Linked DNA regions of Homo sapiens. The protein of the gene in region 1 purifies or fractionates together with the protein of each later gene. This does not show direct contact. Each region holds a gene or a part of one and is shown on either strand. Other genes may lie near its edges.

What was found. Proteins that work in one complex are often made in the same cells at the same time.
Region 2: the proteins of BRINP3 (region 1) and FAT1 purify together in Homo sapiens (affinity purification with mass spectrometry; 2 studies listed by BioGRID and IntAct, with this or other methods). This does not show direct contact.
Region 3: the proteins of BRINP3 (region 1) and KIAA0232 purify together in Homo sapiens (affinity purification with mass spectrometry; 2 studies listed by BioGRID and IntAct, with this or other methods). This does not show direct contact.
Region 4: the proteins of BRINP3 (region 1) and NRP2 purify together in Homo sapiens (affinity purification with mass spectrometry; 2 studies listed by BioGRID and IntAct, with this or other methods). This does not show direct contact.

Annotation. Positions count from the first base shown.
Region 1 is NC_000001.11:190,475,065-190,479,248, forward strand, and holds the start of BRINP3 (BMP/retinoic acid-inducible neural-specific protein 3 isoform 1 precursor), read right to left. Parts: upstream 2,801-4,184; 5' UTR 2,384-2,800; intron 924-2,383; exon of another isoform or gene 716-923; intron 1-715. UniProt on the Homo sapiens protein: Inhibits neuronal cell proliferation by negative regulation of the cell cycle transition. Promotes pituitary gonadotrope cell proliferation, migration and invasion, when overexpressed. May play a role in cell pituitary tumor development.
Region 2 is NC_000004.12:186,710,357-186,713,856, forward strand, and holds part of FAT1 (protocadherin Fat 1 isoform 1 precursor), read right to left. Parts: intron 1-3,500.
Region 3 is NC_000004.12:6,859,227-6,862,726, reverse strand, and holds part of KIAA0232 (uncharacterized protein KIAA0232), read right to left. Parts: intron 1,827-3,500; coding exon 1-1,826.
Region 4 is NC_000002.12:205,745,001-205,748,500, reverse strand, and holds part of NRP2 (neuropilin-2 isoform 2 precursor), read right to left. Parts: intron 2,756-3,500; coding exon 2,611-2,755; intron 1-2,610.

The sequences.
Region 1 (4,184 bases):
ATCTAACTCTCTTCCGCTCTCCCCACCGCCCTCCAGATTCTTGGGAGTTGGTGAAGGAAAGGAAGGAGTGACCGTCAGCAATAATACTTTAACACAGAGCCTAAGAAGTCATTCAACAGTTCTAAACCCTACTTCGCAGTCAGACAAGGACAGTGATTAGGGTTTTATAAAGCAGGCATTCTGAGGAATCGTCGTTTACTAACGTTAAATATAGCTCATTAAAATAAATAAATATTAACGCAAAAAGGTACTAAGAGACTCCAGAGATCTTAAGTCTATTCTCTCATACAGAAGAGGTTTGCTCAAGTTTGGCTTAGGAAGGTTGGAAATGGAGCATTCTGGAAGGATGGAAACCCCCTGGCGCACCCCACTCTATGGGGCTGCAAATGCCCACACCAAGCACACGTTCGCTGCAGGGGCTGAGTGCAGAGCCTGAGCTAGCAGGTCAGAGTAGGGGACACCTTTCCTACACGCATGGGTTATTCCCACATCAACACCAAGCCTGGGGCCAGCTGGTCAACCAGGCACCTTGCTCTCCTCCGTTCCCTGAGCTCAGGTGGCATAGGCGTTGCCGTGAGCTGCGGAGAAATCTCCACGCAGAGTCGCCTGTTGATAACCCTCCAGTTAAAACGTTCTTGGCAGCGGGAGCCCCTCAGATGTAAATTTCCCTTTCACACGCTTGAGCTTCAGGTATAATACAGCAAAACGCACTTACCTAAATACTGACTGTCTGTTCCTTACTGGATCTGACTGTACTGAAAGTTTTTTTTTTCTTTTTCTTTTTTTTTTCCTCCCTCCACCCTTGCGCAACAACAGCAGTCCTCCAAAGAGAATGTTTGAATTGAATTATATGAAGCCCTCCTTTCTTCAAATGAAGTCACGGACTCTGATGGCACTGGCTTGTCAGGCAGGACGACCGGACTGGGAAAGAGACCAGGTAGAAACTAGTGACCTAGTGACGGGTGAGGGGCGCCAAGTGGTGCGGACCACAGTCTCAACCCCCGTTCCCTCTCGGTGGGAGTCAAGGGGGAAAAGCCCTTGAATCCCGAGACGGGGGGATGGGGCGACGCTGCAGCTGGAGTACTTTTATGTCTGGGAGCTAAAAGGGCTTTTGAATTTAAAAAAACATTGCTTGGGTTGTCGCGTCAGCCATCAATGACGACAAGAATAGTTATTTCCCAGAAATTAAAAAAAAAAAAAAGGAAAAGAAAAGCGTGAACAATAGGTTCTTACCTCCATGTATCCCAAGAAAAGGAAATGTTGTAGAGACCAGGAACTTGTCCTTAATTTGAGGGCGGGGGGCGGATGTTCAGAGAAAACCCTCAGTGGGTGTTAAAAATTACCGATACATGCAGGTTTGGCATTTAATGAATATCGTGCTTTCCTCATTATGTGTCAATTGTGAAGTAAAAGTAAAGATTAAAATGTTTCTCAACACAACTATACGGAAGAGGAGGTGATAATCTTGTCAGTTAAGTCCATAGAAATGTTCATAAAAGCAAAAGGCACTGACCATATTAACATGCCTATTAAACACAAGGGTTGGGGGCAGACAAGTATGAAGAGTGAGGCAATTAAATTTTTCATGTAAAGTCTATTCTTGAATTTCAATTTATCAGAACCAAGATAATCAGGGGTTTCTTCTGATTGCTCCTCTCTGAAATGAGTACTCTGTGTCCAATTAACTGTTCACCAGCTAATTCACAAAATCAGAAATGTACTGACAAATACTATGCCTGAATTAAAATACAATGCCTAAAATAACGTGCTTATGTGTGATTTGAAATATTTTAAGAAAAAAAAATGGTGCCCTCAAAACTCACAGTCCTCTTCCTACCATTCAGTGGCATTTTAGTGCTTAAGGTCTTGCTAAATTCATAAAAATACACTTTGCAACAAAGTCTTCCTTCAGTCATGTAATTGCTTATCATGAACAAATGCTGACCTGAACAACCTTCTGAATATCCGACTAGCGAACTTTCCAGACCTTGCAATTGTCAGAAGGTCTCTTTTAAGCTCTCTCTTAGATAAACCTATAAAATGTGACATTTCAAATGGCACAGGAATGTGTGCCAAGAAGGGTTAATGGGGGTGGGGGCGATTAATGTCCGTGTAACCCATAATATAAATGAGGACAAATATTTTAAAAATAAAGAAGGTAAAAGATATTGGGGTAATACATGGGATATTGGGGTAATACATTACATGGGTTATGTCTTAGCAGTGCAGTTGCCACTAACATACTAATTAATAAATATGGCCATATGGATCTTTCAGTTCTGAAAGTAACAAAAATGTGAAAAATGAAATACTTCAACAAAACAGAGCTTATTAAAAATAGCAATAGTTAAGTTTCTAGTAACAGATAAAGAGAATAACTTACCAGAGGAAATTTCAGGAAGCAAGAAGACTGTGAGAAAAATACATCCAGGATTCAAATAGATATTCCATGATCTTCCAAATCAAGGTAAAGTAGTGAGCTGCAGGGTAGTAGGACTTTAAAATAATCAGCAGTTCCTGGTGGCATGTAACCAAGTAAAAACCAGTTACACAGAGAGCCACGAACCCCCAAGGCAAGAAAGCAGAATGTGAAAATGCTTTATATGGGGGGGTGGGGAATGGTGGGGGGTGATTCGTGGTGATCCTTAAGCAAAGTGAAAATTTACAGGCTGCACATCCCCATACAGTGGGGAAAGGCAGAAGCTGTGTAACCCCAGAGAACAGGAGGTGGAATACAGATAAATCTGCAAAGAGAAGTAAAAGGATGTGTTGAAGACAACGAGATAAAGAGAGAACTAGTGAGCAAGGCTGTAGTCATCCTGATAGATATAGCAGCAAGAATGATTTAGGCTGCTGGGGAGGATCCAATGAGAATTCAAGAGGGCACCACTTCGGAAATCCTGCTCTGATCTTCCCACTCTCAGTTCTTTAAGAGTTACCTGCGTTGGGACCATTATCATTAGGATTAATAGTATTCCATCAGTGCATTTCACTAGTATTTCCCTTGAACATTTTCACTTGCAGCAACTGAGGGAGGCGTAGTAAGGAAGCCCAACACAACCAATTCCCCCACTCCCCAAATAAACCACTACGACCGGTCACATTACGATGACCAAATCATCAGCGATTTGCACGAGGCGGTGGGGGGTGGGGGGTGCGGGCGGTGATCGAAGGGCTGAAGATGCGGAGGAGGCCGAGTCGCTAGGCGCTTTCGGGGGCGCTGTGCCGGTGAGGCTTAGGCAAGGGGACGGGGAACCGTGGTTAGATGCAGCAGCGGCGGCAGCAGCCCTCCCAGGTCCCACTTCTTTGGCGTTCCTGCTGCCTGTGACTCAAGACAATTGACTTCCACCTGAACCCTCAGCTCCGAACGCCTTGCATTAGAAGCTAGAGCTTTGGAGGTTCTGAGGACGGTCCCTGGGGAGCAAGTGGTAGGTTTCGAGGCGCCCGCTTCCCCTCTGATTCCTGCAGTAACTGAGAGAGAGTGTGCCAGAAATGGCTTTGCTGCCGAATGCATTATCTTGCCATTTTCGTGTCCCAATACTGAACAAACGATCGCCTGATCGATCGGTAAGATTAGCTTTATTCCTTCTCCCTATTCCTCTCCTTGGCCCCATTCCCTCTGCAAGTCCAAACCCCAGTCTCTCTCTCTCTCTCTCTCTCCCTCCCTCTCTCTCTCTCTCTCTCTCTCTCCAGGAACTTCTTCCTCTTTGAAACCGGTTTCCCAAGGGAACTGCCTGTGTGACTGAGAGGCTAGTAATCTGTTTGTAGATGATTTATATTTTGGCTGCAGAATGAATCCCCCTCCCTACTCGGAGTACTCTCCTTAGAGATGATCCCCCGCCCCCTCCCCATGGGTTCGCTCTCAGAGCTGGGATCTGTATAAAGAGCGCTGTGGGAGTCTTTTGCCCTCCGCTCTAGCTCTATCTTCCTCCGGACCCCGAAGCTTAAGAATTATCCGCCTCACTCTCTTTTTTAGAAATAGGAGGGAAAGGTAGAGTGGAAATTGATTTCTTGCAGAGACTGAGGCGCTGAATGATAGAGGGAATAAACATTTGCCCTGGATAAAAATGTTCTTGGTAAGTAATCTTATTTTCTGCGGTTGAAAAAGAAACAGATTGCTTCTCACTGCCCCATCCCCCACTCCATTCATTTATTTGCTCTCTGTATGTAAATCACGAGCTGGG
Region 2 (3,500 bases), on another chromosome or scaffold:
ATAAGAACAGCTTGTAATCTCATTTCAAAATGTATCCTGAAATTATATTATTTCTGTATAAGAATGGTTAAGTTCACTCCCTACATAATGTAAGGGTTTATTGTCTCATTTCGCTCTATGTAACTACTTAAAAGTATTAAAATAATTATATCAAGTATAATACTTATCAGCAACATAAGCCCCAAAGAAAGGCAATTTACAAAAGAAAAACCAGAATTCAGCAGCCTGATGTCAAACAGCATTTTTCCTCTCTAAGTCAGTGAAGCAAACTTTACCAACTATATCAATGTTTTATCACCACTGCTGTCAACAACCAGTTGTTCACAGAATGTCTCCTATCTTCAGGGCATCGAACAACCTGTCACCCTGGGCCCCTCCATGAGAAGATGACACACACACACAAAAGCTAAATCTTCTAAGCTAACACACGTCAAGGGTCAAATCAGTCTATTAATACATGGTGGCAGACTCTGCAGGACAGTCCCTGGGTGACTGGCGGAGAAAAGAGAGAAACTGAAGAAATGAAGAAAACGTTGCCTTTAACAATGACAAATGGGAAGGTGGGCGAAGTCCACTGGGCTGAGGTCTGGCCAGGGAAGCAGGACAGTTATTTTCAGATCAACTGTTCCCCTTTGCCAACAAATTCATCTTGTAAATCAACACAGCTTCACAAAGGACAGCACTGTCATCTTGCAAAGTGACTCTCAAATTAATATTCACAAAATGTGAATGCTACCAGAGGTAAATGAAGAGCAAACTGGAGGGTGGGTTTGACAGCCCAGTTGAAATTGGTACGACAACATTAATTTATAGTATCTTAACTTAGCTACTGCCAACTCTGCCCCATAAGTCATTGCCTTAGGGGGAAAAAAAGACCTGATGTGCTTAAAGCAATTAAAGCTTAATTGATATTGAACCACGTTCAAGTTGGCCACCCTAACTTGTTCTTTAGCTATGATGCCTTCTCCTCTCCAGATAAAGTCAGAAATTAGACAGATTTTTGGCTTCTAGGAGAACAATTATCATTTAAACAAAATAAGAAAACAATTTTCTCCCAAAACTATCTCTTTAAGTATCTCCATTTAGTCAACAGTTCTAATACTCAGGGAAATTTGAATATTATAAAATAATCTTGTAATTTTATCAAAACAAATAAAAAGTTCAACCTACAGGTATGGAGGACCTTATCAGACAGAACCTTGCATGGTGTTAAGGAATAAAAGACAAAGATCCCAATCCCAAGGGATTTACAAACTAGAAATAAAAATACATATAAAGAGGCTGGTCACGGTGGCTCACACCTGTAATCCCAGAACTTTGGGAGGCCAATGCAGCCGGATCCCTTGAGCTCAGGAGTTCGAGACCAGCCTGGCCAAAACATGGTGAAACCCCATCTCTACTAAAAATACAAAAATTAGCAGGATATGGTGGAGCAAGCCTGTAATCTCAGTTACTCCAGAGGCTGAGGCAGGAGAATCACTTGAACCCGGGAGGCAGAGATTGCAGTGAGCCGAGATCGCGCCACTGCACTCCAGCCTGGGCAACAGAGCTAGACTCTGTCTCAAAAACAAAAAAACAAAACCAGAAACACTTGGATGATGTTTAGCAAGCAGTGTCTTTTGTTTTAGGAGTCACATTATGTTTTAGGAGACATTTTTACCATCATCCATTGTACAACAAAATATTATACCAGGATTCTATTGCAAGTACTAGAAGTATTTTTGCTTAATTCTACGTATAAAGTTATCATGCAGCCATTAAAAGATAGCACTCTGTATGTTGACATATGTCTAGCTATATAAACTGGAAAAACGAAGCTGATCCTATTTATGTTTATTTAAAAGAGAGGAGAAGGGGGGTAGATACAATGTACCCACGGATATACTTTAAAATGGACAGAAAAGTCTAGGCAGACAAGCAACTGTTAACAGTGGTAACTTCTGGAGAACCGGTAGAGAAACAGGTAGCTGAGGGAATGATTACTGTGGCATTTTTCTCTACTGTGGTTTTTTTTTAGCATGAGTATGTGTTGTCTTTATCATCCACTCACCCCTTTCATTAATTATTTAATTCCTTTTACATAGGTTTAATGAGCATCTACTATGTATCAGGTGCAGTTCTAGACGCTGGGGATTCAAAAGTGAACCAAATTACCAACAAGTCCTGATGGAAGATACATTTCCTGGCCAGACACAGACAGACAAGTAAACAGAGTATATCCGATGCTGATAATTAAGTGCTAAGGAGAAAACTAAAGCAGGGCAAAGAGAGACCAGGGTCAGGAACCTGAAGGAAAAGAGGGAACCCTAAATCCAAAGGGTCAGGGCTTACACTAGTGACATGCTGGGCAACTCTTAGATTCTTTGGGGAAACGTAGAGTGTTCAATATGATTCCTGGTCCCCACCAGCATGAAGCCTGTGGCATCCCCCTCATCACCCAGCTGTGATGACTAAAAATACCTCTATCTCGAGACATTGCCAAACACCCTCTAGGGCAGAAAGTCACACCCCGCAGAGAAGCACTAGATTAGGGAAGCCAGAAAGAGACCACGTGGCTGGAGCACAGCGGTTGAGGGACAGCGGTAAGGCCGGGGCACATCCTGGGAGAGAACCTATCATGAAGGGGGTTCTTTTTAAAAATAAACCTTATTTTAGAATGCTTTTAGACTTACAGAAAAGTTGCAAAGAGAGCTTCCCCTACTGTTAACATCTCACTTTAGTACATTATACTAGATACAACTAACAAACCAGTACTGACACATCATCAACTACAGTCCATACTTCACTCAAATTTGCTCATTTTACCCAAGGCCTTCTCTCCATCCTAGAATCCCTTCCAAGACACCACCTTACATTTAGCTGTCATGTCTCCTAAGGCTCCTCTGGAATGTACGTTTCTCAGATTTTCCTTGCTTTTAATGATCTGGACAGTTTCCAGAAGTACTAGTCAGGTATTTTGTAGGATGTCCCTCAACTGGAATCTGACGTTTCTCTCCTGATTAGATTGGGGTTCTGTTTTGGGGAGAAAAGCCACAGAGGTAGAGTCGTTTCCACCACACCGTAGCAAGCGGGTAAAATCAACACGATTTATCGATGTTGACGCTGCTCCTGACCACGTGACTGAGGTAGTATCTGCCAGGTTTCCTCACAGTCAGGTTACTTTCACCCCTCCCTGTACTGTATTCTTGGTAAGGAAGTCACTGCATGTAGCCCATTCTTAAGAGACAGAGAGTTTCGCTACTCAAAATATTTATAATTCTTCTAGAAACTGATTTGTCTATCTTCCTCCATTTATTTATTCAATTTTTTTTCTTTTTTAGACAGAGTCTCGCTCTCTCACCCAGGCTGGAGTGCAGTGGCGCGATCACGGCTCACTGAAGCTTTGAGCTTTCCGGGCCCCCGTCTCAGCCTCCTGAGTAGCTGGGACTATAGGTGCGTCTGTAGATTTAGACTGACAGAATTTTACATACTCAGGAACCACCAGCACGCCTGGCTCATGT
Region 3 (3,500 bases), on another chromosome or scaffold:
AAACTAATGTAGGAATCTCACCTAAAGTTCTACTGTTTTGCTGGCAAGTTTCATCTTGCAAAAAATCTAGAAGTTCTTCATCTACATAATTTGACGAGACTCTAGGAACTACATAATTAATATCTTCGGCATTAAACTGTGTGGATTCTTCAAACTGAATATTTAATGTTTCATTGTCTGAACGTGTTTCTTCTGAATGGGACCATGGACTACAAGTTCTTGTTGAAAGATTAGAACAGTGTTCATTTTCTTCAAAGGCACTATTTTTGGTCCATATTAGCAATCTAGACTGTGTTTTCCCAAGCATATTAGCACTAGAATCTGTATTTTCATTTCCCAAGTTGAGTGTTTCAAAAGAAAATGGTAAAACAGAATTACTGCATTGCACTTCAAACACTGAAAAACAAGAGTTTATACCAGATCCTTCATTAATATCTGAAAAGAGCTCTTGATTGCCAGCAAGCAGGTGTGAATTGAGCACTGTGCTGTCTAAGATGGGAGAGAGTCTAACTGGAGAGTCTCCTCCAAAACTCTCCCCATCAGCATCACCGGAGCTGGATGAACAGCACTCCCAAAACTGAGCCAGATTGCCAAGGTCCTGCAGGAATAAGCCCTCAGCACCTACGGAGCTGGTAGAATCTGTCCATATTGCACGTTCCCCTTGCAACTCCATACCATCTAACACTATGCAACATTCTGCCTCAAAATCTGTGTTCTCTTTGCTTTTCTGTCGAATCATATTCAAAATCCGACTTTCTCCTTGCATTGTTTCTGAGGCACCAGGATCCAACATGGATTGATCAATATCCACTTCATAGAAGTGCGTTAATTCTGATAGATGAATATCATCCAGGTATTTATTGTCCTCTGGTAGAGAACATAATGAGGTCCCAGTGAGGTCAATATCCTCATTTATAACTGCAGGCATTTCTACAAAATGACCATCAATGAAAGTACCTGCTGCGAGGTATGTTTTATGAAGATTATTGTTGCTGATACAAAGACCATGCACTGATTCAGACAATTCTTCCACTGCCTCTGATGTCAGATCACTTGTATCCTGTCTGTTTCGGTATGTGGTCTCTAGTTTACTTTTTCTGCTCAGAGGAACAAAATATTCAGCAATTGGCTCGGTGTACCACAAGGGCTCCTCTTTATACTCTGTGTCCTTTCTATTCTCCATGTACAGGTCTTTTCCTTCAGTGCTCCCAGGATCTTTTCTCCCTATTTCTTTTAAAGGTCTCTTACCCCGCTTGCACAGCTGTTTGACAGAACCACTGCTGCTACTGCTACTACTTCCAGTATGAATGTTCCTTTCAGCCTTTTCACCGTGCTTCAAAGAAAGCCTGCTTTGCCCATTCCGCCCTTTTTTGTTTCGAATCTCTCGTGCCTTGTGTCTTACTTTAACATACTTCATGGATGCTTTTAATTCTCCCTGATTCCCACTGGAACTTGAGCCTGCTTCACTGGAGCCAGAAGACCACGAGCGAGGGCGAATCTTTCCTTCAGGTTTATGTCGGATTTGCTTTTTGTACAAAGCAGGCTTTTCTTCAATTGTGCCATTACTAAATTTGTTTTCCTTCTCGTTTTTGCTTTTGCTCTGGGTTTTCTCATGCACAGTGGTGGGTACTTCACTGCTTCTTTCCTTGGTGACTTCACTTTCACTGTTGCAGTCCTTAGGAGAGGAAGTATCTGTGCTAGCTGGTGGGGCTGTGGATGATGAAGAAGAGCTAGAGTAAGAACAGACTTTAGACTTGTTCCACACAGTCATGATTTCTTGCAGGCAAACTGGTTTCTCAGAAAGTGGTGGAAATGCTTCATAGTACCTGAAAAACAGAGTAAAGACTTCAAAACACGAGTATGCAGATTTTTTAGATACAGTAAAACAACATTACCAACCAGAAGAATGGAATATTTCATTTTAGTAGTGTCAACATTCACATCATCCAAGAATCATTAACTTTACAATAATTTATAATACAGTAAAATATGCTTAAGATTAGTCCCATGCATCAAGCACCATTTTGCTCAGCACTGTGATACGCACTGTAAGATTACTGAGAAAATATGTAAGATGACAGTTTTTATCTTCAAAGTTTGCATTTTAATTAAGAAGTCAAAAAGGACAAATAGTAGAAGAAAGAATGCAGTCTCTTCAGTAAGCATTATCTGAATTTGAATCTCAGCTAAGTCACTATTGCTTGCGACTTTAAGCTCATTATTTACTGCTTCAGACTATTTCCTCAACTGCAAAATGGTGATCCTATGACTTACCTCCCAAAGTTATTGTGAGCGTTGAAAATATATGCGGTTAAAAAGCTCGGTAGCAATCAGTCAAGAGTATGAGCTCTGAAGCCACATTCTCTGAGGTCAAATCCTGGCTCTGCCTGCTTTACTAGCTGTGTGACCTTAGGCATGTTACTTAACCTCTCCATAGCTCAGTTTCCTCACCTACAAAATAGAGCTAGTAATATTTACCTCTCAGGGTTGTGAGGAGTAAAGGAATTAATATGCAAAATGAGTTGGAACAGCAGCTTCTTACGTAACTGCTAGCATACTGCCTGGCATTGAAGCAGGCCCTCAGAAAGGGTAGGAATGATCACATTCAAGTATTCAGAAAGAGGATGTCGGTGAGGCCTACAACAATTAAAGTGGGCCACAACTGAGCCTTGAAATTCCAGATTTATTCCACAAGTTTAGTGAGTACTACCTGTGAGGCCTGAGAGCCTGTGTGAGGACACCAAGACACACATGTTATGCTCACAGAATGGAAAACTAACTAGAGCTGTGATCACCAGAAATGCAGCGTAGAAAAAGCCAGGGAGGCTGGTTTCAGGGGGCTTGAAAATGAGAAAGTATTTTTGATTTGCTAGGAAACTGGGGGCCACTGAAGATTTCAGAGCAGAACAGATTGCAAAGGGCAGAATTTAAAGTCACATTGGCTACTGGGGACTGTTGTTTCAGAGGCAATGCTCAAGGTCACACATGAAGTGGTAAAAGGCCATGTTTTCAAAGGGCCTGAACTTGATTCTCTTTCTCAGTCTATGTCAGAGTTGACCAACAGAAATATATTTTGAGCTTCATATGTAATTTTAAGTGTTCTAGTAGGCACATTAAAAACATAAGAAATAGGTGAAATGCACTCCAGTAATATATTTAACTAAACTCCTGATATTATCATTTCAACATGTAATCAATACTTTAAAATGTTTAATACTTTACTTTTTTTTATATATAGTCTTTGAAATCCAATGAGAATTGTCCACTGACAGCACATCACGGTTTGAACCAGCCCCATTTCAAGTGCTCAGTAGTCACACATGGCTTACAGCTTCTGTGCTGGATAATACAGGTCTATACAAACCAAGGAAATGCTATTTTTTTCTTAGGTTTCAGAGGTTCGAAAGATTAAAATAAAATGTATAATAGGGAAGTCTGTTTATAATGCAGATTATTTTAAGACTATTTACGAACAAAAAAATAAAAGTATCTTTAGGAAG
Region 4 (3,500 bases), on another chromosome or scaffold:
TTGCTCACAGTAAATAGCAAATAACCTCGAAGTGTCCTAATTTGTAAGTTCAAGTTTGTCACTGTGTCATAGAAACTCGATTGTAAAGCAAACTATGGGGCAGTAAGGCAAAACATAATTATTTGAAACACAAACCAACTAACAGGTGAAGCAGCCCTGTCAAAGTATTTAGCTGCAGCAGCTCAGCCCAGCCCATTATTTTTCCTGTTATCCTTTGGGATAGGGATGAAGAAGTGAACCGAAGATGAGTGTGAGAAACAGATGGAAATTCGAAAAGCAAACATAGCCACGTGACCTATGGAGAACAGTTTCTGGAAATGTTAGGTAGCAAAATGGGTCAGCTGATTGGTGTAAAGAATGTTAAACCCAGGGGCCAATGAGGCACCGGAGGGCAGGGCGTGTAAATGAAAGTGGAGGAACGGCGGGCACCGAGGCCTCGGTGTTTATACTGTTTGTACTATGTTTGTACTGGGTGCTCCAAGGTAACTGCCCATCAAACAGCAACGCTACCCCTGAAATTGAAACCAGATGTCAGAGACTTCAAAGGAAAGGAGGCTGGGCAGAGGGGAACGCTCCTCAACTCTGATCTTCCAAGGAATGGCCAGGCAGGGCTTTGAAATAAGAAACCTGTCACTGACCATCACCAGTGTAATTTGGGGCATGTTGGGATTGGGGAGCAATGAAGGAAAGAGGTCATTAGCAACTGTCCCACTGGCCAGACTGGGAGGGCATGGCACTGAAGGGCAAGGGATGGGGGGAAGAATGAGGTGGACTTCATCCAGCTGAGTGACCTCTGGCAAGTGACTTCTACCTTCTGGGGCTGTTTCCTTGTCTATGAAAGAGGAATTGGCCCAGGTCTGTGATATTTCCCAAACCACGCATCACTCTCATCATTGGGTTGTGGAATCCGTCGAATAGGTCATGACCAGCTTTTAAAACATACCGACTATAATATTTTGGAGTGCACTTCCATGGTTAAGATGACCATTGCTTTGGGAACCTTTTGTTTCAGTTACAGTTATTTATCATAACAGGTTTGCTGGGTGCAGGCAGTAGTCTAAGTATTTCACATCCATTCATTCATTTAATCCTCACAATGACCCTATGGGGTAGACAGACTATTGTCCTCTCCATTTTTCAGCTAAGATAACCAAGGCGCTGAGAGACTAACTTTTCTGAGGTTATGCAGCCAGCCAATGGCAGGGGCAGGACTTGAACTTGGCAATCTGTCTCCAGAGTCCAAGCACTTACCCATACACTGTACCCCGTATACACCACTGTGTGTGAGTGCTTATAAGTGAAGCGGGTTGTGAAGGAAAATTATTTTAAATTGTGTATCATGGGCAGAAGTGTGTGAAAGCCACTGGCTTACAAGCTCCTGGATCCCCTACAGCGCTGAGCCCCTGATTCCAGGGCACATAAATGAAGCCAGCTTGTATCGGGGGGAGGTTTTCTGCACCTGTGAGAGGACGGGTGACACACGTTTAGCAGGCTGCAGGGAACTTTGGCCTCATCCCCAGGTAATGGGGAGTTAAGTGTCTTCCTATGAAGATGTGTTCGCTGGGGCTGCCTTCAATTCAAAAGTGAGGAGGCTAATTTGGGCCCAATTCCCAGCCCGTGTGCCTCAACAGGGCTCCTCTGCGCTGCTGTAGCCAGCATACAGGCAGCATTTTTCTCCCTGGGAGCCAAAAGCACTTCTCCGACATGCCCTTATTAATCCCTCATGCCATCCTGCCGGCTGAGCCCGTGACAGGTACGGCACAGACAGGAAAATGGGGATACCTGGGGCTCTGGCGGAGGAGGGCAGGATAGCTCAGGCTGGTGGCTGCTCCTGCTGGCATCAGGCTCAGTCCCTGAGCCCCAGTGGCTCCCACAAACTCCTTTTGGCAGGCAGTGAGTGAGCTCTGGGTAAGATCTGGTGCCAGCTCTGCTGAGGGAGGAGGGCTGGCGACCCAAGGAAAGGAAGGTAGGGCCTGACTCAGAAGGGCAGGGCCCTCCCTCGGAAACCAGGAAGGCTGGGCACCCTCCGTGGGCCTCACCCTCATTTGGAATGATGAGAGGTGTTCCCCAAGGCCTGGGCCACCTGGCAGGAATGAGCAGGACAATGAGAAGGAGTCCTGCCCCCATCAGCTCCCTGCAACAGGGTCCCTCCTGAGCAAATAAATGCCTTTTACAGATGTGGCTCCGAAATGAAAATGAAGTCTCTTAGCCACTGACATCTGGAGGCCAGATTCAGACATAAACCGATTACTTTATTATCATGAGGGGTTTTTTTCTTCCCTAAATCAACAGCCACAGCCCTCTGGCCTGAAGAGCCAGGGTCTAATTGAATTTGGGTGGGTGGTGTGTGGTTATGATTTGTTTTTGAGAGACTCGGGTTGGAGAACTGAAATGATCCCTTAAAAAAGACAAAGTACATCCCTTGAGAAACTGTCCCAAGTCCAGAGGCTGCAGTACCCGTGGTCTGAGGCAGGAGAACATGGCAGGGGTCTGCAGCATTTCCAGCTCCTGGGATGGCTGCCCCCTCCACAGCCCTCCCAGGGCCTCGTGGGATGCCAGGGTCAGAGGACCATGTGGGTGAGATGCAAAGAGGAGGAAATGTCATCTTACCTGTCCAGTCACAGCCCAGCACCTCCAGCCGCATCCCAATCCCCGCCGGCGACCACCTCTCCGGGTATACCCGCACATACTGTGCCGGAATGGGGTCAAACCTTCGGATGTCAGGGGTGTCATAGTGCATGTTCCCTTCGAACAGCTGCAGGGAGAGAGGCCACTCAGCCCTTCTGGTGTGGGACCCAGTCCCTATCACCTTCTTCCCTTTCCTTCCCCTTCTCCTCCCTGCCCCGCACGTCCTGCTAGGAAGGCAGCTTCCTAGTTGATTCCTGGTCACTGGGACATTCTGATCCACGCGAGCTTCATTTTCAGACCAAGGATTTTATTCATTTGGAAGGTGGTTATGGACCCAGAATTATGGAAAATAGGAAGTAAACAAAGGTGGCAATTTCCAGGTTGTGTCTTTTACCTGGTGACTAAAATGGAGTATCTGGGGAAGAATTTGGCTCCAACTGCGTTTTCAGCTGACTTTGGCTAGAGAGGGGGGAAGGCAGTTTGGGCGATCTTTGACCGTTCTGAATTCCTGGTCTACAGGGAAAGGAACACTTCTTTTTCTAATGTGTGAAAGCCTCCATTGAGGTAACCCAAGCTGACTGATAGTTCCTAGCTCACTGAGAACCTTACGGGAAAATGACCCCTAGGCCAATGACACTGTCTTCTGGTCACACATCGATAGTCTTAGACTGTTTCCCAAACCTTTGTTTAGGGAAAGCACTCCTGTCAAAAGAAACCTCACATGGAGCCCCAGTACATAAAACTGATGATGCGGGGAGCAGGGGGCTGCTTTGGAGGACCAGCCTAGAGTACACTTGGAGACACTCATCCGGGGGAAGGACAGGAGTGGGTGGCCAGGGCCTGCAGCTGATTAGCCCCCAGAAATTCAGCAG